7 linked regions of the Homo sapiens genome follow. The protein of the gene in region 4 interacts with the protein of the main gene of each other region in a biochemical or structural test. Each region holds a gene or a part of one and is shown on either strand. Other genes may lie near its edges. The genes, in order: SERPINA12, PDCL3, NOD2, XIAP, XAF1, LIMA1 and SDHA.

Evidence for each region.
Region 1: the proteins of XIAP (region 4) and SERPINA12 form a complex in vitro, tested with the Homo sapiens proteins (one large-scale study listed by BioGRID).
Region 2: the proteins of XIAP (region 4) and PDCL3 are reported together in a solved structure, tested with the Homo sapiens proteins (one study listed by BioGRID).
Region 3: the proteins of XIAP (region 4) and NOD2 form a complex in vitro, tested with the Homo sapiens proteins (one study listed by BioGRID).
Region 5: of the proteins of XIAP (region 4) and XAF1, one has a biochemical effect on the other in vitro, tested with the Homo sapiens proteins (one study listed by BioGRID).
Region 6: the proteins of XIAP (region 4) and LIMA1 form a complex in vitro, tested with the Homo sapiens proteins (one large-scale study listed by BioGRID).
Region 7: the proteins of XIAP (region 4) and SDHA form a complex in vitro, tested with the Homo sapiens proteins (one large-scale study listed by BioGRID).

The regions. Positions count from the first base shown.
Region 1 is NC_000014.9:94,506,670-94,510,908, reverse strand, and holds the start of SERPINA12 (serpin A12 precursor), read left to right. Parts: upstream 1-1,439; 5' UTR 1,440-1,567; intron 1,568-4,239. UniProt on the Homo sapiens protein: Adipokine that modulates insulin action by specifically inhibiting its target protease KLK7 in white adipose tissues.
Region 2 is NC_000002.12:100,565,993-100,569,492, forward strand, and holds part of PDCL3 (phosducin-like protein 3), read left to right. Parts: intron 1-510; coding exon 511-637; intron 638-2,938; coding exon 2,939-3,029; intron 3,030-3,500. UniProt on the Homo sapiens protein: Acts as a chaperone for the angiogenic VEGF receptor KDR/VEGFR2, increasing its abundance by inhibiting its ubiquitination and degradation.
Region 3 is NC_000016.10:50,724,028-50,728,592, forward strand, and holds part of NOD2 (nucleotide-binding oligomerization domain-containing protein 2), read left to right. Parts: intron 1-1,461; coding exon 1,462-1,545; intron 1,546-3,387; exon of another isoform or gene 3,388-4,423; intron 4,424-4,565. UniProt on the Homo sapiens protein: Pattern recognition receptor (PRR) that detects bacterial peptidoglycan fragments and other danger signals and plays an important role in gastrointestinal immunity.
Region 4 is NC_000023.11:123,862,612-123,867,176, reverse strand, and holds part of XIAP (E3 ubiquitin-protein ligase XIAP), read right to left. Parts: intron 1-4,565.
Region 5 is NC_000017.11:6,765,388-6,769,952, reverse strand, and holds part of XAF1 (XIAP-associated factor 1), read right to left. Parts: intron 2,602-4,565; exon of another isoform or gene 2,500-2,601; intron 1-2,499. UniProt on the Homo sapiens protein: Seems to function as a negative regulator of members of the IAP (inhibitor of apoptosis protein) family. Inhibits anti-caspase activity of BIRC4. Induces cleavage and inactivation of BIRC4 independent of caspase activation.
Region 6 is NC_000012.12:50,220,592-50,225,156, forward strand, and holds part of LIMA1 (LIM domain and actin-binding protein 1), read right to left. Parts: intron 2,068-4,565; exon of another isoform or gene 2,044-2,067; coding exon of another isoform or gene 1,932-2,043; exon of another isoform or gene 1,895-1,931; coding exon 1,430-1,894; intron 1-1,429. UniProt on the Homo sapiens protein: Actin-binding protein involved in actin cytoskeleton regulation and dynamics. Increases the number and size of actin stress fibers and inhibits membrane ruffling. Inhibits actin filament depolymerization.
Region 7 is NC_000005.10:234,685-239,249, reverse strand, and holds part of SDHA (succinate dehydrogenase [ubiquinone] flavoprotein subunit, mitochondrial), read right to left. Parts: intron 4,107-4,565; coding exon 3,911-4,106; intron 2,823-3,910; coding exon 2,651-2,822; intron 1-2,650. UniProt on the Homo sapiens protein: Flavoprotein (FP) subunit of succinate dehydrogenase (SDH) that is involved in complex II of the mitochondrial electron transport chain and is responsible for transferring electrons from succinate to ubiquinone (coenzyme Q).

The sequences.
Region 1 (4,239 bases), on a different chromosome or scaffold from region 4:
CTTATACCTGTGCTCACAGCTTAGCTCCCACTTATGGGCAAGAACATGCAATATTTGGTTTTCCATTCCCGAGTTACTTTAGTTAGAATAATGGCCTCCACCTCCATCCAAATTGCTGTAAAGGACATTATTTCATTCCTTTTTATGGCTGAGTGGTATTCCATGGTGTGTATATACCACATTTTCTTTATGGATTTATTGTTTGATGGGCACTTAGGTTGGTTCCATATCTTTGAAATTACGCAACATGTGTGTGCATGTGTCTTTTTCATATAATGATTTCTTTTCCTCTGGGTAGATACCCAGTAGTGGGATTGCTGGATGAAATGGTAGCTCTCCTTTTAGTTCCTTAAGGAATCTCCATACTGTTTTCCATAGGGGTTGTAGTAATTTACATTCCCACCAGCAGTGTAAAAGTGTTCCCTTTCACCACATTCATGCCAACATCTATTTTTTTTATTTTTATTTTTTACTTTTTAATTATGGCCATCTTGTAAGAGTAAGGTGGTATCTCATTGTGGTTTTCATTTACATTTCCCTGATGGTTAGTAATGTTGAGCAAATGCTCTTTTTTTATATCCTCTGTTGTTCTGCTCTTCTACCAGCATCTAGATCTGGCTTGAATGACATTTAGCACGGACTTGGGTCTATATTATTTTAAGTGAAATTGATTGACAGCATGACTTCCAATAGTTTGGCTCTCTCAGGCAACCACAGATCCAATGCAGTCTCCTATTGCCCATTGTACAGGTGAGTACACTGAGAACCAGAGGAAGGGATGGCTTCTCCAGCCACCAGGTGCATTATGAGTCACCTATGTCTGGTACCCAGACCACAGGCCCAGGCCCTGAGACGTCCCAGAGCTCGGGAGTGGGGTGGGGTTGGATGGATGGGCTGCCTGCTCCCAGGCTGCACCTGGGAGGTGAGAGAGGGCCATGTGAACATCTGTGCCAGGCGGCTGGTATTCTATAGCAGTGCCAGGGTGCCCACACCCATTCCTGTCCTGTCCCAGGGAAGGAATCTGGGGTGGACGATTCTGCTCAAAGATGATCACAGGGATCAGGGCTGTGGAGCTGGGAGGGGATGGCGTGTGTCACTCTGGTTTCTGGTGCACTCACTTTTATGAGGTTTACTGGGTGCCAAACACTCAGGTCCTAGCAAGCCAGGCCCTCATCAGTGAATCTACAGAGCACCTTGGGTGTACCTAGCACAGTGCCCCTTGCTATTTGGGATGGGAGAGAAAAAGTAGGCCTGATCTTTCCCAAGGGGTGAGGAAGGGAACTCCCAGACGCATTGCTCTCTGAGTGAGACACTTGGCAGGGCCAGTTGGCCAGGCTGATCCTGGGAAAGGGGTGGAGGTGGCAGAGGCAGGCTTAGTAGGTCGTTGGGCAGAAGTCCACCCAGTTTGTAGATAAGGCTTGTGGGGCTGGGAGCCTAGAGGAACATACCTGGAACCTGAAGGCTGCAGGACCAGGACCGAAAAAGGACTAGGAGGCTGGGATCAGCAACAACTGGGGAAGGCCAAGGAAGACTGACCTGAGGGGAAAGGAGAAACTGGGGAGGTGAGGTTAGTCCAAGGGGCAGTGTGTGTGTGTGTGTGTGTGTGTGTGTGTGTGTGTGTGTGTGTGTTGTCTGTTTCTCTGTCTTAGAGAAGACAACCAAGGGCCAAGGTGATCACTCAAATAGACAGACATTCTGCGTCCTTCTCATGCCTAGCCCTAGGGCTGGATCACCAGTCTGGCCAAGAGTTCCATGGGTCTGTGCTGGCTGCCAAGATGCTGTGGCCATGCTTTCATTTATGGTCTACCAGAAAGCTATCCATGGAAAAAGGGATTCAGAACCAGAAGACCTGATTTTTGAGTCCTGAATCTGCTAACTGTGCAGCTATAGGAAACTCAGATTTCTCATGTGTAAAAATGGGTCTAGCAGCACCCAAACTTGCAAAGTTGGTATGAAAAATACATAATGTCTATGAATAACCGTATCTACTAATATGTGCATGGAAGTACCCTGTTCTGCAGAGACAAAGACAAAGAAGAAAATAAGATGAGGAAAATCAAAGCTGGCCCCCACCCACAATGTTTCAATGCATATTTACCCAAATTTTTTACTTTTTGCTGATTGAGAAACACATGTGGTTACTTATTGATATATATAAGAACTCTTAATTGTTAAGAACATTAGCTCTCTATCTTGTACACATGTTCCAATTTGTGATTCCAAATTTTACATATTCTGTAGAGTTTTAACACGTTGCAAAAAGATGGTATATCCATATATGCCATCTTTTCCTACATGGTTTCTGGCTTGTGTATCACACTTAGGAAGTTCTTTTTCACTCTAACATTATGAAAAGGTTTTATTCCAACACTTGTAATTTTATTTTTGAAATGATTTGTTTGTTTCCTAATAGCATTTATGGAATTGTTCACCTTTTCTCGAATGTTCTGAAATGCCATCTTGAATTTTTTACTATTTACAGAATGCTTCCCATTAAAAAAAAATTTTCTAAATTTTCTATTTCTCTCCTTTTATTTCTTACTTGTTTAGATTTTTGTGTGGAAAGATTTTCAACATTTTGTACTAGAAGCTTTTTAGGGTAACCTAGGATCTTACCGGAGATTGCTTAAAAATATTTTCTTTCAAAATCAATTATTATTAATTTTAAATCATTTATTGATTAAGCTCCCCAATTGGAGTTGAATTCAATGACTGAAAATACATTGCATTTACTCAGTCTTTGCCTTATTGCTTGGAGGTACAGTATAATTTGTTCTAGTGGGATTTGGGCTTTGCAGTGTTTCACACTCTTGGTCACTGGCTCCCATAGCTGTCTGTCACAAGCATCAACTGGGGATCCTGTGGAAACCAAAGAAGAGTGGGGACACCCAGGGAAATGCAAAGTATGATCTGGGATGGTGGCCAGGAATCTCTTTCTCTCTCTCCCTTCTCTACTATAAATGGACATCTGGGTTGTTTCCACTTTAGGTCTATCACATAAAGCTGCTATGGACATTGCAGTACATGTCTTGGTAAACCCACAAGCACTCATTTCCTGTTGGGCATATACCCTGAGGTACAATGAATGGGTCAAAGGGTAAGCATATGTTTACCTTTTATAGATCCTGCCAAGCAATTTTCCAATCAACACGTTGGTGTCGGTTTGCACACCCACCCGCAATATAAGAGAGTTCCACTTGCTCCACGTCCTCGTGTGGCTGGTCCTTTTAATCTGAGCTATTCTAGTGGGTGTGTAGTGAGTTCTTCTTGTAGTTTTGTTTTGCATGTTTCTGATGATTAATGATGTCGAGCACCTTTTCAGCTGCTTATTGGCCATTTGGATATCTTCTTTTGTGAAGTATTTGTTCATGTCTTTGCTTAGTTTTTAAGTTGTTGTCTTTTTTCAGTCGATTTGTAGAAGTGCTTAAAAACAGGCATGAGCCTTTTATCAGACACAGACATTACACGTACCACTCCCAGCTTGTGACTTGCCTTTGTACTGTCCTAGGTAATTTTAGAGGAACAAGGCTCTTAATGTTAATGAAGTTCCATTTATCATTTTGTAAAAATGGTTAATACTTTCTGCCTATCTCATGGTCACAAAGATTGTCTACTATTAATATATTTTCTTCTAGAAGCTTTATCATTTTGATTCTTGTGGGTTTTGAGGTTAAAAAATATTAAAGACCAATAGTTTCATATAGTCCAATCTAATACCTTTCACATTTAGGTCTGTGACTTCTCAAATTAATTTTTGTATGTTGAGTAAAATAGTCACTATTTATATTTTTCCTGTATGGACATCCACTGGTGTTTTGTTGTTGTTGTTGTTGTTTTCATCATTCATTGAAAGGATCATCCTTTCCTTTGAACTGTAGCGATGCCCTTGTCACATATCAGGTGACTTCCTGTGTGGCTCTGTTGGATTCTCTAGTCTGTTCCATTGGTCAGCTTGTCTGTCTCTGTTCCAATACCTTAATACTGTGGCTTTACAGCCATCTTGATACCTGGTGGCTGAATGCTTTAAAAGACCTGGGAATCATCAGGTGGGAATCACTTGCTTTGGAGTGGGATTCTCAACCTTGAGTACTCATTAAATCCCCTGGAGAGAAGTTCTTAAAGGCACCCTCACCCAGGATTTATCCTGCATCAACTAACTCAAAATCTCTAGAGGAATGTTCTGAAAATAGGTATTTCTAAAGCTCCTGGATGATTGTAATGCACTCCCAGGATGGAAAC
Region 2 (3,500 bases), on a different chromosome or scaffold from region 4:
TCCCGGGTTTATGCCATTCTCCTGCCTCAGCCTCCCAAGTAGCTGGGACTACAGGTGCCCGCCACCACGCTCGGCTAATTTTTTGTATTTTCAGTAGAGACGGGGTTTCACCGTGTTAGTCAGGATGGTCTCTATCTCCTGACCTCGTGATCCGCCTGCCTCAGCCTCCCAAAGTGCTGGGATTACAGGCGTGAGCCACTGTGCCCGGCACTCTCAGTCATTATTAAAAATATTGAACACATGCCAAGTCAGAGCCTTGGTATCCGTATTGATACTGATCTGCACTCCCTATCCTAATTTTTACCCCAAGAATAGCTCCTCCATTCAGGGAGGGGTAGACAGGAAAAACAAAACGGGGGCTATGGATCTTTTGACACTTTCTCAGAAATAGTTCACAGACTGGTGTGCATTCCTCCCTTCCTGTCACTTTTCCCATTTGGCCCCTTGCCCAACGTGGCACCCTACATACTAGACTTAGCACTCATGGTAACCTTGGTCCCGCTCTTCTAGGACCCCAACGCAGACACTGAATGGAATGACATCTTACGCAAAAAGGGTATCTTACCCCCCAAGGAAAGTCTGAAAGAATTGGAAGAGGAGGCAGAAGAGGAGCAGCGCATCCTCCAGCAGTCAGTGGGTGAGTTCACTCGCTTTCCTCTGCACCTGTCTGGGTTAGGAGATGGCTCCCTAAGCCTCTGACTGCCCTGCCAGGAGACAGGTTGGAGTGCCAGCATGGACACTCTGTGTCTGTGGGACCTCAGACAAAACACAGGGCGTCTCTCACCTTCACCTTCCTGAGCCATAGACTTAGGGGACTTCAGATATGTCCCACAAGTCCTTGTCCATGTCACATGAGCACTGAAGAAAATACTTCTTTCTGCTTTCTGGTCTGTGATTCCCTTTGATAATGTCATGGAAATTTGTTCAAGGTTTTTAGTACTTGTATTTTCCTGAGCATATACTTTATTTTCTGTGGTTTCATTGAGGATATTAACTAAAAATTGCTTCATTTGGGGAGGCATAAGATGTTTGCAATGTGTGGGAGTCTGAGGGGGGTTTTCTCAAAGGCAGTTGTACTGTCTGAATTGGAGTCCCTTGGAGTGCTGGTAACCCCACCCACCTAGTGTTTACTGAAGCAGTCTCTGGAATGAGGCCCAGGAATCTGCATTTTAAACAAGTGCCTTAAAGGATTCTGATGCGTGTCATAGTTTGAGAAGCACTGGTCCCAGGGACTAGTACTTTTGTCCTCTGTTGACACATTAGAGCTAATTTAGAGAAGGATTTATTAGAAAGTATCCAGCGAGTGCTTACTGCATGATTATCATTGTCAGGTGCTTTTCTGGGGTTGGGGATTTAGCTATGCATAAGCCAGAGACAATTCTCTGCCCTCAGAGAACCAACATTCAAGTGGGGGAGACAGACAATAAACAATAAAGAAAATAAGGCAGTAAAAGGGACTAGAAAGGGTTGGAGGAGAAGCAGGCTCAGAGAGGGCCTCACTGAGATGACATTTGCATGGACCTGAAGGAGGTGAAGCTGGCATTTGGGTAAAGACCTGAAGGAGCTGAAGAACACATTTGAATAGACCTGAGGGAGTTGTTGAGACCTGAAGGAGGTGAAGAAGACATCTGGGTATTCCTGAAGGGGGTGACGTGAGCGAGTGAAATATGGGCCCTGGCATGGCTGGGAATCCCTGAGGAGCTGGAGGCGCTGGGGGAGAGAGTTCAGAGCAGCCTCAGCAGACCCAGAAGCTTCTAGTAAGGACCTTGGCCTTTACACCTAATGAGGCAGGAAGCTTTTGGATGTTTAAACAGAAGAGTGACATTTTCTCTTTTTTGTTTTTTTTTTGAGATGGAGTCTCGCTCTCTTACCCAGGCTGGACTGCAGTGGCGCAATCTTGGCTCACTGCAACCTCCGCCTCCCAGGTTCAAGCGATTCTCCTGCGTCAGCCTCCCGAGTAGCTGGGATTACAGACATGTGCCACCACGCCTAGGTAATTTTTTGTAGCGATGAGGTTTCACCATGTTGGCCAGGCTGGTCTCAAACTCCTGACCTCTAGTGATCCGCCCACCTCAGCCTCCCAAAGAGCTGGGATTATAGGCGTGAGCCACTGCACCCAGCCAAGGGATGCATTAACTTGGAGATCCCTATTAGACAAATAGCCACATTAAGAGGGCCCTTGGGTATGTTTTTCTCTACATTAGAGAAGTCTGGGCTGGAGGCCTATACTTTGGGAGTTGTCAGCATATTGATAGCACTGAAAGCCATGAGATTAGATGCAATCACCGAGGGAGTGGGTGTGGATAAAGAAGAAAAGTAGTCAAAGGTTTGAGCCTGGGGAATTTTAATCAGCAAAGGGTTCAACAGTAGGGCGGCTGGCTCACTCCTGTAATCCCAGCACTTTGAGATGGGCAGATCACTTGAGGTCAGAAGGTTCAAGACCAGCTTGGCCAACATGGTGAAACCCTGTCTCTATTAATGATACAAAAATTAGCTGGGTGTGGTGGCACACGCCTGTAATCCCAGCTACTCAGGAGGCTGAGGCAGGAGAATTGCTTGAATCTGGGAGGCGGAGGTTCTCAGTGAGTCAAGATCGCACCATTGCACTCCAGCCTGGATGACAAGAGTGAAACTCTGTCTCCAAAAAAAGGAAAATAAGCGGGGCAGGGTGAGGCGGAATAGGAGAAGAGAGGGGAGGAGGATCTGAGGGCTTGGGTAAAATGTTGTCAGTCAATAAATTGGGATTACAGGTGTGAGCCACCATGCCTGGCCTCTCAGCTTCTAATGTAGTGTGGTGCCTTAAGTAATTTTTGTTTAGGTAGGCTAAGGATCTGGTGTTGTGTGCATATCTTTAGGAGAAAAGAGAGGGGAAAAAAGAAAAATACATGTTCGTTCATCTTTTTAAATTTTTGCTTTTTGCCAATGTAACCAAATTCAGTGAAAACATATGAAGATATGACTTTGGAAGAGCTGGAGGATCATGAAGACGAGTTTAATGAGGAGGATGAACGTGCTATTGAAATGTACAGGTAAGCGCCACCCAGAGGGGCTGTTTGTTTTTTTGTTGTTGTTTGTTTTGTTTTGGTTTTTTTTTTGGCGTGGCAATAAAATGTGTGGGCTGAGCATGGTGACTCATACCTGTAGTCCCAACACTTTGGGAGGCTGAGGCAGGCAGATCGCTTGAGCTCAGAAGTTTGAGACCAGCCTGTGAAACCCCGTCTCTATAAATAATACAAAAACTAGCTGGGTGTGGTGGTGAACGGCTATAGTTCCAGCTACTCAGGAGCCCTGGAAGTGGAGGTTGCAGTGAGCTGAGACTGTGCCACTGCACTCCAGCCTGTGTGACAGAGCCAAACTCTGTCTCAAAAAATAAAATGAAATGTGTGTCCTTCAAAAAATTAATTTTCAGCTGAAACATCTAGGAGCGACTGCAATTAAATAATATTGTGAATTTTAGCAAACTGATCTTAGATTTTTGCCATAAGACCAATAAATAAACC
Region 3 (4,565 bases), on a different chromosome or scaffold from region 4:
GATAGTTGAAAGAGGAACCATGAATCATGCTTATACTGTTGACCTGAAGCAGATTCTAAGTTTCTCATCCTTTAGATGCCACTAGTATAGTTTTCTGACATGTTCTGGGCAGCTTCAGATTATGTCAGGGAGATAAAATACTGAATGTTTGATTTTCCCGGGAAGCAGAAAGGCACTGCAACATATGGGCATTGCCATAAACAGATTTTATGGATGGACCTTGGCTGTTGCAGGGCTTACTAGCTCTACTCAAGTATGATTGATTCTATCCTGACTGGATTTTGCCACTTGGAATTTCTTAGTAGAGGAGAACCTTGTTATGAGAGCATCAGTTATGATTACTGTTAAAAGAAAAACTTTAGGCAAATTAAATTTAGCAGAACTGGTTTGAACATACAGCAATTTATGAATTGGGCAGCATTCAGAACTGGGAGTGCTCCACCCAGCAAGGTAGGCAAGCAGTATCTATAGACAGGAAAAGGAAGTGATGTACAAAACAGCTTGATTGGTTGCAGCTGGGCATTTGCCTTATATGGGCATGGTGTGATGAGGCATTTTCTTTATATGGATATAGACTGATCAGCTGGTAGACTGTGACTGACTGAAGCCTGGCTGCTGTGATTGGCTAAGACTTAGCTGTTTGTTATAAGGATATGTTGTTAGGTTGCAGTTTGCTACATAGGAACTCAAAGTACAGAGGCAGTCTCAGGCCAAATTTAGTTTAACTATATGTTAAGCTGCAGGTGACAGAATACCTCCATCTATAGAGGTTTAAACAAGGAAAGGGTTTATTTTTTCCTGTATAGGCAGCTGGATGTAGGCAGTGTAGGGTTTGTACAGTGGCTACAAGAGGCCAGGAGGGGTCTCAGCTCTGTCTCATTCTCTTCCTGTTCCATCATTCTTAGCCTGTGACTTCATTCACATGGTTGGTTGTCTCATGATCACAGGATGGCTGCTCCAGGTGCAGCACTACTTCTGTATTCCCGGATTCGATCTATATACCCAGGAAAGCCATCTGGGTTCTCTCCTTTAAAAAGCATTCCTGGAAGCCCCACCTGTCGACTTCCCCTTATGTATCAACCATGTGTATGTCACTTGACCAACCCACTTGTATGTTGTTTGACCAGCCCTGGCTGCAATGGAGAGTGGGAAATACAGTTTTTTCACCAAGTGCATGGCTGTCCAAATGAAATGAGACTTCCATTAATAAGGAAGAAAGGAAAGATGGAGATCAGGAAGCTGGGGGATCAGGGAACTTATTACATTGAGAGCCCTTGGAGTGAATTCTCTTGCAAATATGTCCCTGGAATTGAGAATCCCCACAACGTACTTTATCTGTTCTTTCTTTATCCATGAGTTTGGGTTTTCAGATGTTGGATTTCCTATATGGGGGGCATGTGAGTTCATCATCTTCCATAATCAATGTTGTATCAACTGGATTTTCTCTCTTCTTCTCACCAGCCTGGAGGAGAACCATCTCCAGGATGAAGGTGTATGTTCTCTCGCAGAAGGACTGAAGAAAAATTCAAGTTTGAAAATCCTGAAGTAAGGAACCCATAAGCAGGAAACAGGACAATAATTGCTGGCCTTTGGAAGGGGCATTTCTGAATAAGATCTGGGCCGCTCTCCGCTGGGCTAACTCATGTGAGGTGGCCTGGTAGAACAGCTTGCCTTGGTCTAGGTGGACAAGGATTCCAGTGCAAGTTGTTTATCTGGGAGGTGGTCCCAGTAAATGCTGATAGGAGAGTGGTGAAGTGAGATGGGGAAGTGAAGGTAACCAATAAAGGGGAGTTATCAAGCCAGTTATCAATGAGGGAAATTGGAGCTCAGTACTCTGGGGCACTCCTGGAGCCAGTGCAGAACACACATGGTCACCTACCCAACCAATGGGCAAGAAAGCCATGGCATTTATCCACCAACCCTCTGTCCTTCCTATGTTGATGTGCGCTCATGGGGCACTGATTCTCCAGCACTTCCAGCTCACCCTCACCCAGCTGAACATGCTTCTGGGGTCAGGAGAATGGCCTCAGGCAGAGAGTGGAAGGTCTTCTCTGCAAGCAGTGGCTGGGGAGGTGATGTGATGGGGAGTACTGTGGCCTCCTCCAGTGGCTGACTCAGTGGCTTGGGACTTGTGCCACAAAGAGATGGACAGCTCAGGTGAACATGAACCCACCTAGTGACCATCATGGGTTTGTCAGGGTGCTCTCTGAGGCTGATGCCAAAATTCTTATTTCAAGTAGACCTCAGGAACCCCATCAGATGGCTCCTTTTGCTGGAGGAAAGTGGCATCTGCCTAGGCAAATGTGGTCCTAGGAAAACGCTTGCCTTTAGAGACAGACAGACAGACAGCTGCCTCTGTGAGTGCCAGCTTTGCTGCCAGGCTGCTACCCACTCTGGCGACACTCATTTGTGTTGCTTTCACAAGCTAGGAAGTTTCCAAATATTTGGAGAAAACACTTCCACTAATTATTTGGGTGGAAATGGGCTGGGAAGTTGGGGTGAAGCCCGGATGTGTCTGAGCCAGATGCCAGCTTTGCACTGAGGGTCGGCCTTTGGGAATACCAAGCCCATTATCAACCAGGTGTGGATATGGCAGGTTTGTCTTCCCTCCTTGTCACAGCCTTACTCCACTTGACTCCCATGGATGCCAGGCAATGAGGCTGGGGTTGGTCCCATGCCACCCTGTCATCAGCCTTATTTTTCAGCATCCTAAACTATATCATCCCCCACAAAAATTGAACTTCTGATATATCTTTTATAAAAAAGAGAAATGCCTACATCTTTCTTTTCCAGGCTTAGTTTCTGCCAAGAGTTGGTTGAGAGCCCAGGCTTGCTGGGTGCAGTGGCTCACACCTGTAATCCCAGCACTTTGGGAGGCTGAGGCGGGTGGATCACCTGAAGTGGGGAGTTCCATACCAGCCTGACCAACATGGAGAAACCCCATCTCTACTAAAAATACAAAATTAGCCGGGCGTGGTGGCATACACCTGTAATCCCATCTACTCAGGAAGCTGAGGCAGGAGAATCACTTGAACCTGGGAGGTGGAGGTTGCCATGAGCCAAGATCACACCATTGCACCCTAGACTGGACAAGAGAGAAACTTCCATCTCAAAAAAAAAAAAAAAAAGGATGAGAAAAATAATAATTTAAAAAAAAGAGTCCAGGCTCTGGAACCAGACAGCCTGGGTCTTACCCCTGCTCCACCATTACCAGCCAGTTCTTCTTGGATGAGTGCCTCAGTTGCCTCAAGTGTAAATGGAGATAATGGCTGGACCTTCATTATAGGCCATGAGCATTCACTGAGAGAATGTAGCTAACAAAAGTGAGTTGTAGGTTGGAGCAAAAGTAATTGTGGTTTCAGACCATGAACTTTAAATTATTATAACTAGGCTAAAATACATCTTTATTAATCAAAATAGGAACCATTAAAATCAACACATTTTTGCCAATAAGAAATAAGTTTGTTTATTCCTGTAGCATAAAAATTCATGCTTCGGGATTCAACAAACTCTTGGAAAGCATTTTCTGCATCCTCCTGGTTGTGGAAGCATTTTTCCTGCAGAAAGTTGTCAAGATTCTTGAAGAAATGGTAGTCAGTTGGCTAGAGGTCAGGTAAATATGGCGGATGAGGCAAAACTTCATAGTCCAATTCATTCAACTTTTGAAGCTTTGGTTGTGTGACATGCAGTCGGGTGTTGTCGTGGAGAATTGGACCCTTTCTGTTGACGAATGCCGGCTGCAGGTGTTGCAGTTTTCAGTGCATCTCATTGACTTGCCGAGCATACTTCTCATATGTAATGGTTTCGCAGGGATTCAGAAAGCTGTAGGGGATCAGACTAGCAGCAGACCACCAGTGACCATGACCTTTTTTTTTTGGTGCGAATTTGCCTTTGGGAAGTGCTTTGGAGCTTCTTCTCGGTCCAACCACTGAGCTAGTCATTGCCAGTTGTATAAAATCCACTTTTCATCGCACGTCACAATCAGATCAAGAAATGGTTCGCTGTTGTTGTGTAGAATAAGAGAAGATGACACTTCAAAATGACGATTTTCTTGGTTTTCACTCAGCTCATGAGGCACACACTTATCGAGGTTTTTCACCTTTCCAATTTGCTTCAAATGCTGAATGACCATGGAATGGTCGATGTTGAGTTCTCAAGTAGTTGTAAGAAAATCAGCTTTGATGATTGCTCTCAATTGGTCATTGTCAGCTTCTGATGGCCTGCCAGTACACTCCTCATCTTCAAGGCTCTTATCTCCTTCGCAAAACTTCTTGAACCACCACTGCACTATACGTTAGTTAGCAGTTCCTGGGCCAAATGCATTGCTGATGTTGTGAGTTGTCTCCGCTGCTTTACAACCCATTTTGAATTCAAATAAGAAAATTGCTTGAATTTGCTTTTTGTCTAACATCATTTTCATAGTCTAAAATAAATATAAAATAAACAGAAAGTATTAAGTCATTAGCAAAAAATCATAAAGTGAGAATTGTGCATTAAAATGATGTATAGCATAACCACATTTATTTAAGAATGTATTCCAATATCAAATGGCAAATTTCAACAAT
Region 4 (4,565 bases):
AATGGCATGAACCCAGGAGGCGGAGGTTGCAGTGAGCTGAGATCGCACCACTGCACTCCAGCCTGGGCGACAGAGCGAGACTCCGTCTCAAAAAAAAAAACAGAAATGTTAACTATAGAATGTTGAAGGGGGGGGGGGGATTAAAACAACCTGTAGACAATATGATCGTCATTATTCTATTTCATAAATTTTCTATAATAAACACATATCTCTGGCCAGGCACGGTGGTTCATGCCTGGAATCCCAGCACATTGGGAGGCCGAGGCGGGCAGATCACATGAGGTCAGGAGCAAGACTCCGTCTCAGAAAAATAAATAAATACATAAAATAAAATAAGCCAGGTGTGGTAGCACACCTGTAGTCCCAGCTACTTGGGAGGCTGAGGCAGAAGAATCGCTTGAACCTGGGAGGCGGAGGTTCAGTGAGCCAAGATCTCACCACTGCACTCCAGCCTGGGTGACAGAGCTAGACTCTGTCTGAAAAATATATATATTATATATGTAATATATTTTACATATTATATTGTGTTATATATTATATATATTTTACATATATTGTATTATATATTATATATAATATATTATACATGTAATATATTATATACTATATTATATATATCATACATTATTATATACATATTATATATTTTGATATTATATATGATATATCATATATTATATATTAATCATATATAATATATTGTATATAATATAATTTATATCATATATATTATATATCATGTATAATATATATTATATAATATATATAGAAACACATATTTCTTTTATAACTTAAAATACTCAAAGGCCGGCACAGTGGCTCATGCCTGTAATCCTGGCACTTTGGGAGGCCAAGGCGGGCAGATCACATGAGGTCAGGAGTTCAAGACCAGCCTGGGCAACATGGTGAAATCCTGTCTCTACTTAAAATACAAAAAAGGCTGGGTGTGGTGGCTCACACCTGTAATCCCAGCACTTTGGGAGGCTGAGGTGGGTGGATCACGAGGTCAGGAGTTCGAGGCCAACCTGGTTAACATGGTGAAACCCCGTCTCTACTAAAAATACAAAAATTAGCCAGTTGTGGTGGCGTGCGCCTGTAATCCCAGCTACTCGGGAGGCTGAGGCAGGAGAATTGCCTGAACCCAGGAGGCGGAGTCTGCAGTGAACAGAGATCGCAGCCATTGCACTCCAGCTCTGGGCGACAGAGCAAGACTCTGTCTCCGAGGGGAAAAAAAGAGATACCAAAAAAAAAAAAATTAGCCAGGTGTGGTAGCACACGCCTGTAATCCCAGCTACTTGGGAGGCTGAGTCACCAGAATTACTTGAACCCAGGAGGTGGAGGTTGCAGTGAGCTGGGATCATGCACTGAACTCCAGCCTGGGTGACACAGCAAGACAATGTCTCAAAAACAAATAAATAAAATAAAATATTCAAAATACCCTTTTATTTTTTTTGAGTCGGAGTCTCGCTCTGTAGCTCAGGCTGGAGTGCAGTGGCGCAATCTCGGCTCACTGCAAGGTCCGCCTCCCGGGTTCACACCATTCTCCTGCCTCAGCCTCCCAAGTAGCTGGGACTACAGGCGCCTGCCACCACGCCCAGCTAATTTTTTGTATTTTTTTTTTTTTTTAGCAGAGAGGGGTGCCAGGATGGTCTAGATCTCCTGACCTCGTGATCCGCCCGCCTCAGTCTCCCAAAGTGCTGGGATTACAGGCGTGAGCCACCACGCCCGGCCTTAAAATACCCTTTTTATGTTTTGAATTCAACACCTAAAATAACATATCAAAAATGTGAACATGTAAAGAAAGATGGGGTCATTGACATGCACAATCCCACAGCTAATTGGAAACAAAGTCAATAACCTGTACTGTGGTACCCAACGTAGGGCTCTTTCCAAACACTGTAGCACATGACCTCTAAGATACAGAAACAGTATTTGTTAAATTCTAAAGTATTTTTTATCTTATCACTACTGTTTGTCTCTTCATATCTACTCACACAATGTCCTTTAATAGTGCTAACAGGTTACATTTTATAAAACTATTACCAGATTATCTCACAGAGATAAAGCTTGAGAATTGACAGCTCATGATAATCTCCCAGCCTCAAAAGAACAATGGAAAAACAAACAAACACACAAAAGCAAAATAAAAACAGACGAACATAAAAAAGCAAAAAAAAAAAAAAAAGAAGAAAGGCGGCCTGGTGTGATGGCTCGCGCCTGTAATCCCAGCACTTTAGGAGGCCAACGCAGGCAGATCACGAGGTCAGGAGAATGCGACCATCCTGGCTAACATGGTGAAACCCTGTCTTTACTAAAACACACACACACACACACACGGTGAAACCCTGTCTTTACTAAAACACACACACACACACACACACACACACACACACACACACACACACACACGAGAATGCGACCATCCTGGCTAACATGGTGAAACCCTGTCTTTACTAAAACACACACACACACGGTGACACCCTGTCTTTACTAAAACACACACACACACACACACACACACACACACACACACACACACACTCTAAGCCGGGTGTGGTGGCGGGTGCCTGTAGTCCCAGCTACTTGAGAGGCTGAGGCAGGAGAATGGCGTGAAGCCGGGAGGCAGTGCCTGCAGTGAGCCAAGATCGCGCTACTGCACTCCAGCCTGGGCAACAGAGCCAGACTCCGTCGTCTCAAAAAAAAAAAAAAAAAAAAAAAAAACAGAAGAAAGGCATTTGTTTTGCCATATTTATCCTTGGAATCCTACCACATACTACAATGAATGCCTGGAACACATTAAGTGCTCAATGAATGTTTATTTCATAAACTGTAGGTTTTGCTCTCTGCTAATACTACCTACCAGACTTAAATATTAGACCAAACAAAAACAGTGAAATATCATTATTTTATCGCTAAACATTTACAATATAAATACAGGATTTACTAAAGAAATTAATGTTTACAATGAAATAAAAGGAGAACATTTATTTACTAAATTAGTAAATTTATTTAGTAAAATTTATGTTACTAAAATATTTTAAGCACTATACAAATTAGCTGGTCCATTAATTATAATAATTTTGAGAAACTGCTCACTTCCTGAAAATGAAAAAAAAAAGGAAGACAAAATAAAATAAAAACCAAAGAAAAAAATAATAATTCTTAACTATTGAAATGGTCCTGGCTAACCTTTAGATATTATTACTTTGTCAGCCTAGTTGGAATCATCCAATGCACTAGAAAGCAATAAAATTACAGGTATAGTACAAGGGCCACTAGACTAGAACCTAGACTCTAGTCCAAGCTTTGCTAATAATCAGATATATTACGGTGGGCAATATTTTTTTTGAGTCTTAATCTATTTCTAAAAACGAGACAGCTGGGCCAGGTGCAGTGACTCACTTTTTCACCTGAGGTCCCAGCACTTTTTCACCTGAGGTCGGGAGTTTGAGACCAGCCTGACCAACATGGAGAAACCCCGTCTCCACTGAAAATACAAAATTAGCCGGGCGTGGTGGCGCATGCCTGTAATCCCAGCTACTCGGGAGGCTGAGGCAGGAAACTGCTTGAACCTGGGAGGCAGAGGTTGAGGTGAGCCGAGATCGCACCATTGCACTCCAGCCTGGGCAACAAGAGTGAAACTCCATCTCAAAACAAAAACAAAACTAGACAGCTGAACTCCTAATCACTATAAACTGTTTTAGTCTTAACTTTTTATTTGTTTTTGAGGTGGAGTCTCACTCTGTGGCCCAGGCTGGAGTTGAATGTTGCGTTCTCAGCTCACGGCAACCTCCGCCTCATGGGCTCAAGTGGTTCTCCTGCCTCAGCCTCCCAAGTAGCTGGGACTACAGGGGTGTACCGCCACACCCAGCTAATTTTTGTATTTTTAGTAGAGATGGGGTTTCACCATGTTAGCCAGGCTGGTCTTGAACTCCTGACCTCAGGTGATCCGCCCACCTCAGCCTCCCAAAGTGCTGGGATTACAGGTGAAAGCCACCGCACTTGGCCCTAGTCTTAACTTTTTTAAAAAATATGTTCTTATCTACAAAGAGTCTACAATTCAGATTTTTGTTTCTTTGTTTTGTTTGAGACAGGGTCTCACTCTTTCGCCCAGGCTGGAGTACAGTGGCCCAATCATGGCTCACTGCAGCCTCCACCTCCCAAGGCTCAGGTGATCCTCCTGCCTCAGCTCCCCAAAGTAGCTAGGACTACAGGCACAAGCCAGCACGCCCGGCTAATTTTTGTATTTTTATTAGAGAGAGGGCTGCGCCATGTTGCCCAGGCTGCAGATATTTTCCTTGTGTCAATTTTTTTTTTTTTCGGGACAAAGGTGCACTGTTGTCACCCAGGCTGGAGTACAGTGGTGCAATCTCGGCTCACTGCAGCCTCTGCCTCCTGGGTTCAAGCAGTTCTCCTGCTTCAGCCTCCCATGTAGCTGGTACTACAGGTGCACGCCACCACACCCGGCTAGTTTTTTTAGTAGAGGTGGGGTTTCACCATGTTGGCCAGTCTGGACTCCAACTCCTGACCTCAGGTGATCTGCCCGCCTTGGCGTCCCAAAGTGC
Region 5 (4,565 bases), on a different chromosome or scaffold from region 4:
TATGGTGGGTAAGAGGAAAAGTATCAGCTAATGAGAAAAGGAAAGTGGCAAGGAAGCTTTTCTTTCTTGGGTCGGTATTTGAGTGTGGAGATGAAAACTTATGCCCCTGAAAACTCAAAATCACAGGTCCATGCCATTCCTGTGTGTGGGATTAGGATTTACTTTGGCCTCATGGTCTGGGAATCCCTGAGCAGAAGAATTAACATAAACATTGAGATGTCTGGCAGAAGCAATCACAAAATTCCTCTGGAGGGACAACAGCCTCAAAATAGGTCATAGAGGATCCTCATAGGTAGAGTCCCACCAGATAGAAACTCACAATCCAAAATTACAAACACACAAGGAAGCAATCCACCTTGAGTAAGAGTCACAGACACAAAAGTAGTCAGATTAGCCTCCAAGAAGTTCAGGTAATGCAACTATAGGATAGAGACTGTAAAATAAATTAATTAAAAATGATTAAATCTGGGAAAAGAATAACATCTCATGAAAAACAGAACAGGTAAATTTGAAATTTTCTAATTTGTAATTAACAAATAATAACTTTATATATTTATGGGGTACAATGTGATATTTTAATATATATATACATTGTGGGATGATTAAATCAAGTTAATTAACATATCAATCACTTCACATACCTATCTTTTTTTTGTAGTGAGAACAAAAATAGGCAAATTTGAAAGAAAGATAAATTGAACTTCTAGACATGAAAAATGCAGGTATTGAACCTAAATGGATGGGCTAAAAACAGAAAATTAGATTTGGCCAAGAAAGAATGAATGAACTTGGAGATAATTTCAGGAAATTACCCAGAATATAAGAGATAGAAATAGAGAAAATATGAAAGGTTAAGAGACATAAGGCGATTAAAAGAGAGAAATGAAAAAAAAGGAGAGTCATGAAAAAAAAGAGAGTCATGAAGCTAGAATGAGAATGCTTAATATACATGTGTTATGTTCCAGAAGGAGAGTTGAGAGAATGTGGGAGAGTTGGGGAATGTTGGGAATTCAAAGAGATAATAGATGAGAATTTTCAGGCCTGATTAGTGACATAAATCTTTATATTAAGGAAAGAGAAATCCTGAGCAGGAGAAAAGCAAACACATTTGAGTACATTGTTCTGAACAGAATGAATAAAAATAAAACTACTCTTAAACACGTTACAGGTAAAAGGCAAAGAGGATCTTGAAATCAACCAAATATAAAGATTACGTACAAAGGAATGGCAATTAGGCTGGAAGAAAATACATCAACAGCAATAACAGAAGTGGGATGGCAGTGGAATAATCTTCAAAATGATAAGAGAAAATAGCTGTTAATCTAGATTTTGATATCCAGCTAAACTATCATTCATGGATGCAAAAAACAAAAAGCTTATTTTCAGGCAACTAAAGATTTACTACTCAAGGTTCTTGGTGAAGAAGCTACTGAGATGTATTTCAGGAAGAGAGAAATCATACCCAGAAGGAAAGCTTAGGATCCAAGGAAGAATGTGAGTAAAGAGAAGGGTAAACTTGTGAGTATATCCAGCCGGGCACAGTAGCTCATGCCTGTAATCCTAGCACTTTGGGAGGCCGAGGTGGGCAGATTATGTGAGGTCAGGAGTTCAAGACCAGCTTGGCCAACATGGAAAAGCCCATCTCTACTAAAAATACAAAAATTAGCCAGACGTGGTGGCACACACCTGTAGTACCAGCTACTTGAGAGGCTGAGGCAGGAGAACTGCTTGAACCCAGGAGGCGAAGGCTGCAGTGAGCCAAGATCGTGCCACTGCACTCAAGCCCAGGCAACAGAGTGAGACTTTTGTCTCAAAAAAAAAAAGAAAGAAAGAAAGAAAAAAAGCAAAAACAAAAACATGTGAGTATATCTAAACAGGCATGAGTTACATAAATAACAACAATAATCAGTAAAGAGGGGTAGTATGAAAGCAAAATGAAACAAAATTCTGGCAGCATTTTCATGTAAGATAGTTACAGTGTTAACATGTTCTCAAATCTATATACTATTTGTAAGGAAAGTAGAGATAATGACTAACTTTAGACTTTATTAAGTCAAGTATTTATATTAAAATGTTAAGGGTAACTATTGAAATGATAGAAATAAATGTAAAATTGACGAATCAGTAGGAAAGAAGAAAGAGAATAAAGAAATCTTGCTCAATCCAATAGAATACAAGGGAGAAGCAAGCAGCAGCAGCAGCAGCAGCAGCAGCAGTAGTAATGAACAAGAGTGGTAAATGCAAGGCCCCAAAACGATGGGGGAAAATTATTGTTAACATCATTGAGAGTGATAAAGGCATTGTGATTAAGAAAATGACTGTATTTTTGAGATATTAAAGAATGATGGTGAAATAACAGGATATCTTGGATTTGCTTTAACATACTTTAGAAAAAAGAAAACAAACAAAGTATAGTTCAAGCCTGGAAAACTTTTGATTTCCACGTGTTAACAGCTATTTTCTCTTAGCACTTTGAAGATTATTCCACTGCATACCCACTTCTATTATTGCTGTCGATATATTTGCTTTCAGCCTAACTGCCATTCCTTTGCTTGTAATCTTCTTCGGCTGATTTCAAAGAAATCAACCTTTGCCTTTTACCTGTAATGTATCTAAGAGTAGATTTATTTTTATTCACCTTGTTTAGAACAACAACTGTTGTATCTGGGGAGTAAATACATGAATGTTTATTGTATTAACTTTCTACTGTCATATTTATTTGAAAGTTTTTGTAATCAATTTTATTTCTTTTATTTTTAGTGGACAAGTAATAATGATACATACTTATAGAATACAGAATGATTTTCTAATACATGTATACAGTGTGTAGTGGCCAAATCAGAATTGTAATAAGATTTTTAATAAACAGATTAAGATGGTCAATAGATTCTATAGCCACCCAAGCTTTCATTTTCAGACATATAAGGCCTAAAAAATTTGCCTCTCATGCTTTCTTTCTCAAGAAACTATTTGGGGATATGTTCTATCAAACAAGGAGTAACCTAAGAAAGAGAAAGATGAGACCTGAGATTTGGGAATCAGAACTCCAACCGTGGAGAGAGTGGAAGAAATTCCAGACCAACAGCTAATCATCAAGCCTGGGGCATAACATGCTCCCAAAATGAAATGGACAGACTATCTGATGTGTGTAGTTGTACTCAGGGGAATTTTCAGATCTGGTAGAGAATTTTAGGGATGATTTAGTGATAGGTACCTAGAAAGTGAAGCAAATGAAAAACCGAAGCAATTATTAAGTCCAGGTAAAACAAAAAGTTGTAGGAGAAAGAACACATAATCACAATTCATGTGGAAAACCATTTATAATGTTTACATGGTTATACTAATGTAATACTGAATATTTATTTAACCAGAATGAGTGAAATCAATACATTGGAAGGATGAAATGAAGAACTTTGGAGGTGTGTGTGTGGGATGGGTGGTATAAAAAAGTGAAATCTATATTCCTAAATCCTTATGAGTCAATAAGTAATATCTAAAACTGGAAAAAATATAAGAAGGTGCTTTAGACATATGAAGGTGATTACCAGAAGAAACAGCTAAAAGCAAAAGTAGAGTATTTGTGTCTGGGGAGTAGTTAGCATGAAGGGGACCAGTGGGGCTTATAGTTTTTCTGAGGTCGTGGGAGACAATTAACAAGGGCCATAATAAGTAAGTAAATTAGATAATATGTTAGAAGTTGGCAAATGCTATGGAAAAAATAATAGAAGAAGGTAAGGGGTTGGTAAATATGTGATGGAGAGGGAGTTGCAATTTTAAATAGGTTGTTGTGGTACATCTCCTTGAGAAGGTGCCATCTGGGCAAAGACTTGAGAGAAGTGAGAGAGTTAGCTCCTGGAGTAGGGTGGGGAAGGTGAGGAGGTAGCTTCCAGCCAGAGGCAGTAGCCAGTGAAAAGGCCCTAAGGCATGGTATGCTCAAGAAACAATCAGGAGGCCAGTGAGCTGAACAGGAGTAGTACATGAGATCAAAGAGGTGATGAGATAAGAAGGGAGGCAAAGATGACATAGATCTCTAAAGCCACTGTAGTTTTGAGTTTGCATAAAATGGGGCAAGAATCAGTACAGAGATCTGAACAGAGGAGCCAAACAATCTGACTTGTATTTTTAAGGGATCACGTTGACCTCTGTGATGAGAATAGACTGTAGGGGGCAAGGTGAGAAGTAGGAAGACCGTTTAGGAGACTGCTGCAGCATCTGGGCTAGAGAAGATGATGGTTCATACCAGGGTAGCAATGCGGAGGGAAAGAGAAGTCGAGAGTGAACCTGAGATTTTGGCCTGAACAACTGGAAAGATAGAGTTGCCATCAACTGAGATGGGCCAAGCTGTGGCAGAGAGGATTCCATTTCAGATGTGTTACATTTAAGATGTCTATCAAGCATTCAAGTGAAGATGCAGTAAATAGTAATATACAAATCTAGAGTTTGGGGAGAAAAACCCAGACTGAGATATAAATTTGGAAGTGTCTGACTACATATGGCTTTTTAAAAAATTTTTAAATTTTTATTTATTTATCTATTTTTTGAGATGGAGTCTCGCTCTGTCGCCC
Region 6 (4,565 bases), on a different chromosome or scaffold from region 4:
GCTGTCCTGTTCCTAGCAGGGTCTGGGAGGAGGAGACTTACAATGGTGCTTTGAGTCACAACAAAACCCCTTCCTCTCTATTTAGGATTTCTGACATTTTTTCCTTCCACTTAAAATTCTTCTTCCCATTTAAATAAAACAAATTTTTAAATTAAAACCATAAAGGGGAAAGAAGGAGTTGGCAGGACTAAAGGTCTAAAAACTTGAGAGGGAAGAGAGTTAAGAAACGTTATAAAACTGCTTTGTGGTTACATCTCTTGCCAACTGGTTTCACTGTTAAAGTAGAGCTAAAGCTCATGCACAGAGAAGTGTTGTAGCTTTACACATCGTCAAAAACTCGCACAACTTCAAACATGACCCGCAAACATTCAAGAACTTTTCTAATTCTAAGTAGAAAAGTGACTGGCACTGCAAGTCATGGGAAGGGATTGACAATATCACATCTAATATAACTGAAGACTACAGGATGAGTTATTTTTTATCTCAGAAAGAATGCTTAATATTATTATATTACTTTCCAAACATAGGGACTTGGGCCAAATATTTAGCTTAAAAAAAATCCAGCTTTCCCATCTAGGTGGAATCTAGAGTAACAGATGGTTTTGCTCCCCATCAGGTCTGTTTATTTCATTATAACGACTGTTGTAACGAACCATCCCCATGTACAAAGCCAGATATATAGGAAAGTATGAGAAAACTGGAAAAATTTACCAGCTCTGTGGCCTCTGGATTGTGTTATAAATCACCAGCATATGTAACTCATTTTCTAGTTAAGTAATTCCCTCTGGGGACGAGGTCTGCAATCCACATGAAGGATCAAATTTCATTAGCAGTTGTAGGAAAACGCAACCCTGTGCATTTGCAAGTCAAAACTCCCGAAAGCTATAGCTAGTCTGGCTATCTTCATTGATTTTGCCTGAGAGAGGATTTTAGCTGATAGAAAACATTTGTTGGAAGGCACAGATGAGGAAGTTGAGAAGAAGAGAAGGGATTCAGCTAGCAGAGACAAGTAAGCCTCAGTCTTAATGTTAAACTCCGGCCTTAACACTCAGTCTGCAGCTGTGTCCAAGCAGAGAGCTATTCAGCAGTAATTCCACCCCCAAAGCTACAAATGATAAAGAACACAGGAAGACAATTTAAAAGGGCAAGTGTACAAAAACACATAATCCAATCGGTATTAAACTCTCTTCATTTCTAGATACCAATTTGAATCCCAGTGTGAACCTGATTTAACATGAAATTGTGTCAGAGACTCACAAATCTTAGCATCTATGTAAATAATGCATTTGAGACTATTAACTTATCTAACTGGAATCAAAAGACATACTGACCACATATTCGCCTCTACTCAAAATAGCTAGATTGGAAAAACAGCTTTGTTTAGTGCTTGAATTGGCTTTCTCAAGTTTCAAACCCGCCCAATTCTTACCTTAGTTTGAGTTGGTTCACCTTTCTCAAACATCATCTTAAGCCTGTTCAGCGGAACATTATATTTCTCTATTTTGCCCGAAGCATCTGTGTTTTCACTGATTTCTGATTTTTCTACTTCATGCCTGGATTCTCCTAGACAATTTTCCATTTTTTTACTTTCTGTTGAGTGGTCTTTAAGATCCTCACCGTCCTTGATGTGGGGATATCGACCCTGAACGAGGGCTTCAGGAGGTGACCTGAGTCTAGATCTGGGGTGGATTTGTTCTTCTTGGTCAGCTTTGGCTCCAGAAGCAGCGTGGCTTGTCACTTCAGCAGGAGGATGGTCTGCTCTGTGCCTAATCTCAGTGCTGCTGTTCCGTAGAGAGTCTGTGTGAGACTCTGCTCCCAGCCCTGGGTTCTCCCACTTCTTCTTTAACACAGTCAGGGTCCCCTTTCTAAAGTGCTGGGAGAGATTTTCGGTGTTCTAGAAGAACAAGAAGTAGATGCCAGTTATAACTTGCCTGCTGAAACATTCAAACATGTTGTTCTTTGTAAAATGAAAGTTAAAACTCCAAGCTGCTCCTGGTCCACTGCTGTTTCAGACAGCTGTGAACAGTTACAGCCTTGCCACATGGAGAAAGCATCCACCCGGCAGAGGGAGAGGGAGAGGGGAAGAGAGAAAAACTCAGGAGCTGAAGCAGGAAGTGATAAAACAGGATGGCCTTATAAGGACAAAATGAGAAGAAAGGCAAACCCAGCTCTAATGATAGTTACATGCGAAACAAGAGATTTTTACCCAAAGATTAATGGGGAAAAAAACAAGAAAGAAAAAGCAAAATACAAGTGCTTGAAACACTGTAACTACACATCAGCAAAGTTCATCATTACCTGCCATAAAATAACATGGTAAATTCTGCTGGGTTTTTTTTTCTTCTTTTAAATAAGACAAAGATGCAGGATAGTTGCAGGATAGCTGAAACTATACCATTAATTACGGATAGTGGCAGCAAGGATTGAAACAATTTGTAGAACCCTGGAGAAGTCCCCAGACTTTCCAAGTATTTGCATAAATATTTAGTTATATCTGACATAATTTACATGCATATGAGCAGTCAAATTTTATTTTTCATAAGAATTTAATCTTTTTTTTTTCCCTGCTCTTCTCTACAAGTTTATCTGTGTATAAATTCTCACTTATCAGGGCCAGGCACGGTGGCTCACGCCTGTAATCCCAGCACTTTGGGAGGCCGAGGCCGGCGGATCACAAGGTCAGGAGTTTGAGACCAGCCAGACCAACATGGAGAAACCCTGTCTCTAAAAAAAATACAAAAATTAACTGGGTGCAGTGGTGCACACCCATAGTCCCAGCTACTCTGGAGGCTGAGGCAGGAGAATCGCTTGAACCTGGGAAGTGGAGGTTGCAGTGAGCCAAGACTGCGCCACTACACTCCAGCCTGGGTGACAAAGTGAGACGCCATCCCCCAACCAAAAAAAAAAAAAAAATTCTCAGTTATCAAGAAATTCACTGTTTTACAGATCCTCTGGTTGTAAAATATGCAGGCTTCAAATGCAAATACCACTACTTATCACTCAGATGATCAAAGGACACACATTTACATATCTAAGAGAGTTCACTTTCACTAGGGCCAAAAATGGAATTAATTTATACATGTAAGACAGACTGAAAACAACCTGGAAATTGTCACTGTTGTTCCATAATAGAGGAAACACGCTTGTTGAAAATTAAATGTCCCGGCTGGGCGCAGTGGCTCATGCCTGTAATCCCAGCACTTTGGGAGGCCGAGGCGGGTGGATCACCTGAGGTCAGGAGTTCGTGGCCAGCCCGGCCAACACCGTGAAACCACGTCTCTACTAAAAATACAAAAAATAGCTGGGCGTGGTGGCACGCGCCTGTAGTCCCAGCTACTCAGGAGGCTGAGGCAGAAAAATGGCTTGAACCTGGGAGGCGGAGGTTGCAGTGAGCCCAAATCGCGCCACTGCACTCCAGTCCGGGTGACAGAGTGAGACTCTGTCTCAAAAAAAAAAAGAAAAATTAAATTAAATTAAATGTCCCGTACTTTGAAAGGACTGTACTCCTAAATAAATTGAACAGCACCACCTTCCCAACAAACTGCAAACTCCAATACCTTCTCTCCTGTAGTCTGTGACTCACCAGTCTTTCAACTAAGAAAGAAAGGACAAACAACCTAGGAATTAAACAGGATTAGCAGCTATTTTGGGAATTAAGTCTCTCACCCTATTACTCTTCTGAATATACTCTTGAAAGCCACTTCATCAAGTAGAAATAAGGCTTGAAAAGAAATTATAGAACTGCTTGATTCTAGTGTTTAAATTTTAGCTTACAAAATGATCCATTGGGGGAAGAATGTATGCATCAGAGATATAAGAAGCTTAAAAAGTTTTCTTGCTGGAAAAGAAGGAATTACAGAACAGCTCCAGAAGCTGGTTCTACCCTAACTGCCAGCAGCACTCTTGGCTCTGTAAGGTCTCGTGCCACACAATGGATGAGTCATCTAGGTCTCTGACTTCACCTGCCCTTACTGTAACCACACAGGAGCCCTGACAATCAAAGTGGCACTTTGCCTTGGTAACTGGACACTGTTTTTCTCAGATACCTATCATGTGATCAAAGTATACTTATTGACATGAAAAGATGCTCATAGGATACTTTTGAATGAAGAAAGCAAATTATAAGACAGCATGATCCTATTTTAATTTTTTTTTAGAGACGGGGTCTCGCTCTGTCACCCAGGCTGAAATGCAGTGGTGTAATCATAGCTCACTGCAGCTGTTTGACTTCCTGGGCTCAAGTGATCCTCCCACCTCAGCCTCCTGAGTAGCTAGGACTACAGGTGTATGTCAGCATGCCTGGCATTTTTTTTTTTTTTTTTTTTTTTGAGACGGAGGTTCACTCTTGTTGCACAGGCTGGAGTGCAATGGCGTGATCTCGGCTCACTGCAACCTCGGCCTCCTGGATTCAAGCAATTCTCATGCCTCAGCCTCCTGAGTAGCTGGGATTACAGGCATGTGCCACCATACCTGGCTAATTTTGTATTTTTAGTAGAGACGGGGTTTCTCCATGTTGGTCAGGCTGGTCTCGAACTCCCAGCCTCAGGTGATCTGCCTGCCTCGGC
Region 7 (4,565 bases), on a different chromosome or scaffold from region 4:
TGAAAAAAGTTTTTAAGTTTTTTTTATAACGTTATATATATTTTCTTCAACAGGTAATACATGCAGGAGGTAGGATGTATGAAATGCAGGAGTCAAACAGGCCCCACCCCGCCCACCACCTCTCCACAGGACCAGGCTATGGGTCTCTTGAGGGTCTGCTCAAATGCTTCTAGGCTCGCTGGTGTTTCTCTTCCTTTTGATAATAATGCTTTAAAAATTGATCATTCAGTAAAATTGACTTTTTTCTTTAGGTGGACAGTTCTACAATTTACTTTTTCTTTTTTTTGAGACAGTGTCTCCTCCCTCTCTTGCCCAGGCTGGAGTACAGTGGTGTGATCTTGGCTCACTGCAACCTCTGCCTTCCAGGCTCCAGCAATCCTCCAACCTCAGCCTCCCAAGTAGCTGGGACTACATAGGTGTGAGCCACCATGCCCAGCTAATTTTTGTATTTTTGGTAGAGACGGGGTTTCACCACGTTGCCCAAGCTGGTCTCGAACTCCTGAGCTCAAGCAATCTGCCTGCCTCGGCCTCCCAAAGCGGTGGGATTATAGGCGTGAGCCACTGCACCCAGCCTCAGTTCTACCAATTTTAACACATGTATAGGCGCATGTAACCACTTCGGGAGGCTGAGACAGGAGGAACACTTGAGGCCAGGAGTTCAAGCCCATCCTGGGCAACACAGGGAGACCCTGTCCCTACAAAACATTTTTAAAAATTAGCCAGGTGTGGTGGTGTGCACCTGATCGTACCACTGCACTACAGCCTGGGCGACAGAGGGAGACTATCTCTTAAAAAAAAAAAATACATATATATGTGTATATATATGTATTTTTTTTTGCAGGGGGTTTTGGGGGAGAATAGTGATGCTACAAGCATTTTTTCTTTCCTTTTCATTTTTGAAAATTAAAGCATAAAGATACAGTAAAATAAACTCATCATTTTTAGTGTAGGGTTTTTCAAATTTTGACACACACAGAGTTGTGTCTGTAAGTCTCAGCACAATCAGGAAGCAGCCTCTGGCAACCACCAATCCCTTGTCTTCCCTAGATGTGCCTTTTCCAGAATGTCGTATCAACAGAACCACAGGCATGCAGCCTTTTGAGTCTGACTCCACAGCATTCTGCGTGAGATGCTGCATGCGTGGGCGGTTTCTCAGATGTAAAGTATAGGGTATTCTTACAAAATGTTCTTTTTTGCATTTTCAAAGAAAGAGCAGCTCAAAATTTCTACATTGCTCTGAGAGAAGTGGTATCAGTCCTCACTGCGACAAAGTGCAGGGCTATGGAGTGAGACAAGCACTACCTGCGGCGTCAGGAACGATGGACCTGAACTCCGCCTTCGCCGATGATCACCAATGGCTGGGGATGAGACGCCAGCTCTGCGTGTGCTGGCCTCCCGAGCGGTGGTCAGATCCAGAGACAGAGTGTCTGAAGTAAGCTACCCTTTTAATACTATCTGCACCTTTCTAACTACAGATACAAAAGGGGGCACGTTTATAAGTTACAGCCGTGCTAGTTTTTATTTCACTTGAATCCATACAAAAAGCACCTGTTGTATAAAAACAGCAGAAATGATGCTAACAGTTAACACCAGAGAAAGGTAACGGGAAGAACATGGGCCTGGGGTCCCACCATCCTTGCCACGCAAACATCCACCAGTGCCTCATCCACCTCACACTGTTCTGAGCACACGAGGCTGGATAACCACCGTGAGGATGTCTGGAGGTGGGAGAGATGCTAACTGCCCCGTTCTTAGTGCACGTAAGACTCACACTCCCACACATGGTATTTCCTTTACTGCACATTATTTGATGCTATCATGAAAAGAAAACCAGCAAGTGAAATCCAATCTGTCCGTAAAGGGTGGGAATCCTGTTCACTGTAAGTCATCCCTTCTCCTCTAATAGAGGCTAGCTGTACTTTGTTTCTAGAATGGCCTAAATTACTTTTCTAAGTACCAAGAAGTTACATATTCATTCATGCCAACTACTTAAAATATTTCATTGCAAATAAGTGATTTTTATCAGGCAAGTAATATGTAATGATTCCCCTAAAAATAACAACTTTCTAATAGTGCTTTTTCTAAACAGAACATAATGACTGCAAAATAATTAAAAAAAAATGTAACCCCAAAAATGTCACCTTAACTGTTAAGATCCCCAACCAGCCTCTATCTAGTCTCAACATTACCACCATATAATTTCTGGATTTCTCAGTTTAATCACTTCTGGGGGAAAAACCCAGACTACCTCTATATGATCACTAAGCAAATTTCCAGTAAGAAATCAAGGCTTTGTAACCTGGCTGGGTGCAGTGGCTCATGCCTGTAATCCCGATACTTTGGGAAGCTGAGGCAGGACTGTTTGAGTCTAGGAGTTCAAGACCAGCCTGGGCAATATTGTGAGACCCTGTCTCTACAAAATAAATTTTTTTAAAAATTAGCCAGGTGTGGTGGTGCACATCTGTAGTCCCAGCTACTTGGGACTCTGAAGGTTGAGGTGTTGAAGACTGCTTGAGCCCGGGAGGTTGAGGCTGCTATGACTGTGCCACTGCACTCCAGCCTGGGCTGACCCTTTCTCAAAAAAAAGAAAAAAGACTTTCTAACGTCCTGCGCCTTCTCAAATAGTCTGGCTCCTGAAGAAAACACTTACCAGGCCTGCATGACTCTTCGATGCTCAGGGCACATGCCCGACCAAAGACAACCAGGTCCAAGAGCGAGTTTGCCCCGAGGCGGTTGGCACCATGTACCGAGGCACAGGCGGCCTCCCCACAGGCGTACAGGCCGGGCACAATCTGATCCTGGCCATTCACGTGCCTCAGGACCTGTGGAAAGGAAGATTTCAGGTGAAATGTCAAGGTGCCCATGCCTCCACCAGCCCACCTTCCCCAACAGGGTGTCTGTGCTGCAGGTCAGAGAGAGGGAAGTAGGCCAGGCGTGGTGGCTCACGCCTGTAATCTCAGCACTTTGGGAGGCTGAGGTGGGTGATCACCTGAGGTCAGGGGTTCAAGACCTGTCTGGCTAACACGGTGAAACCCCATCTCTACTAAAAATACAAAAATTAGCGGGGCATAATGGCGGGTGCCTGTAATCCCAGCTACTAGGGAGGCTGAGGCGGAAAAATCACTTGAACCTGGGAGGCAGAGGTTGCAGTGAGCTGAGATCGCACCACTGCTCTCCAGCCGAAGCAACAGAGTGAGACTGCATCTCCAAGAAAAAAAAAGAGAGGGAAGTAAAGACCGTATCTAAGAGGGAAGTAAGGACCATAGCTACTCTTCTTCAGAGGGAAGCTTCCGAAGGTATCCCCCAGTTTCCCCTCTGCCCCTGAGCACCTGCTGTTACAAGCAGGTCAGAGGACCTCCAATGTCAGCATCTGCGACTGTCCCCCGTGTCCCATGTTCCCGGGGCCCTCACCACCTGTGCTCCGGCTCAGACCCAGGAGCACGGCAGGTGGAGGAACATCAGCAGGGGAGACTGATGTTCCAGACTGTTCTACCCCGTTCACCTCTTCGTCTACGCAGGGAGAGCAACAGCTTCCACCCACCTCGCCCAACAAGGAGCCTAAGTGACTGACAAGCTCTGTGTGAACCACAAACCACTCAAAGGAATGAATTATAAAGATCCCTTGATGTGTAAGATCATTAGAAATAACACAAGATCATATAGGAAAGTAATTACAAAATGGAAAAAGCTGCAAATGATGTATCTCTGACAATTTACTAAGGAGGAATAAATTATTAAGCCCCCTCCATCCTCCGGTAATAGAAATTTAAAGTGCAATCTAGAAAACAATACAGTACTTTCTTGAAGGAAACATCTATCTTTTCCTGTAAGATCTAAAGAGACAACTGCGAGGTGGGCCCCGTCGTCCCAGCCTTCTTTCCAGCTGTGGGGGAGGAGCCAGCACCATCACCTGCCCCTTGTAGTTGGTGGGAATGCCGCCCATGTTATAATGCACGGTGGGGAGGACAGGGATCGGCTCCTTCGTGACGTCCACGCCAGCGAAGATCATGGCTGTCTCTGAAATGCCAGGCAGGCGCGTGGCCAGCTGCTCTGGAGGTAGGTGGTGCAGCTGCAGGTAGACGTGATCTTTCTCAGGGCCACAGCCTCTGGTAAGACAGAACACCATCACATACGGCAGAGAACGGCAACGGCAGGAGACCTGAGAATACGTCATCTTGGAAGTGTGTGAGTTTCAACATGTTTTGATACTGAGGAAAATTTCCCCTCATGTATGGTCACCCTCTCATCAAATCTTTTCTAAGCAGCTACTGTGTGCCAGGGACAATCCCAGGTGCTGGGACACAGCTGAGAACCAGAACAAAAACTCTGCCCTCACTAAACTCACGCTCGTCTCAGGGATCACAGCCTGCTGCAGGTGTCCTTGGTAAGTGCATTAGAAAGGCCTCTATGCCAAATACAGTCGTCCCTGCGTATCCGTGGCAGGTTGGGTCCAGGACCCCCACGGATACCAAAATCCGTGGATGCTCAAGTCCCTAATATAAAATGGGAGAGTATTTGCATATAACCTATGCACATCCTCCTCTATACTTTAAATCATCCTCATT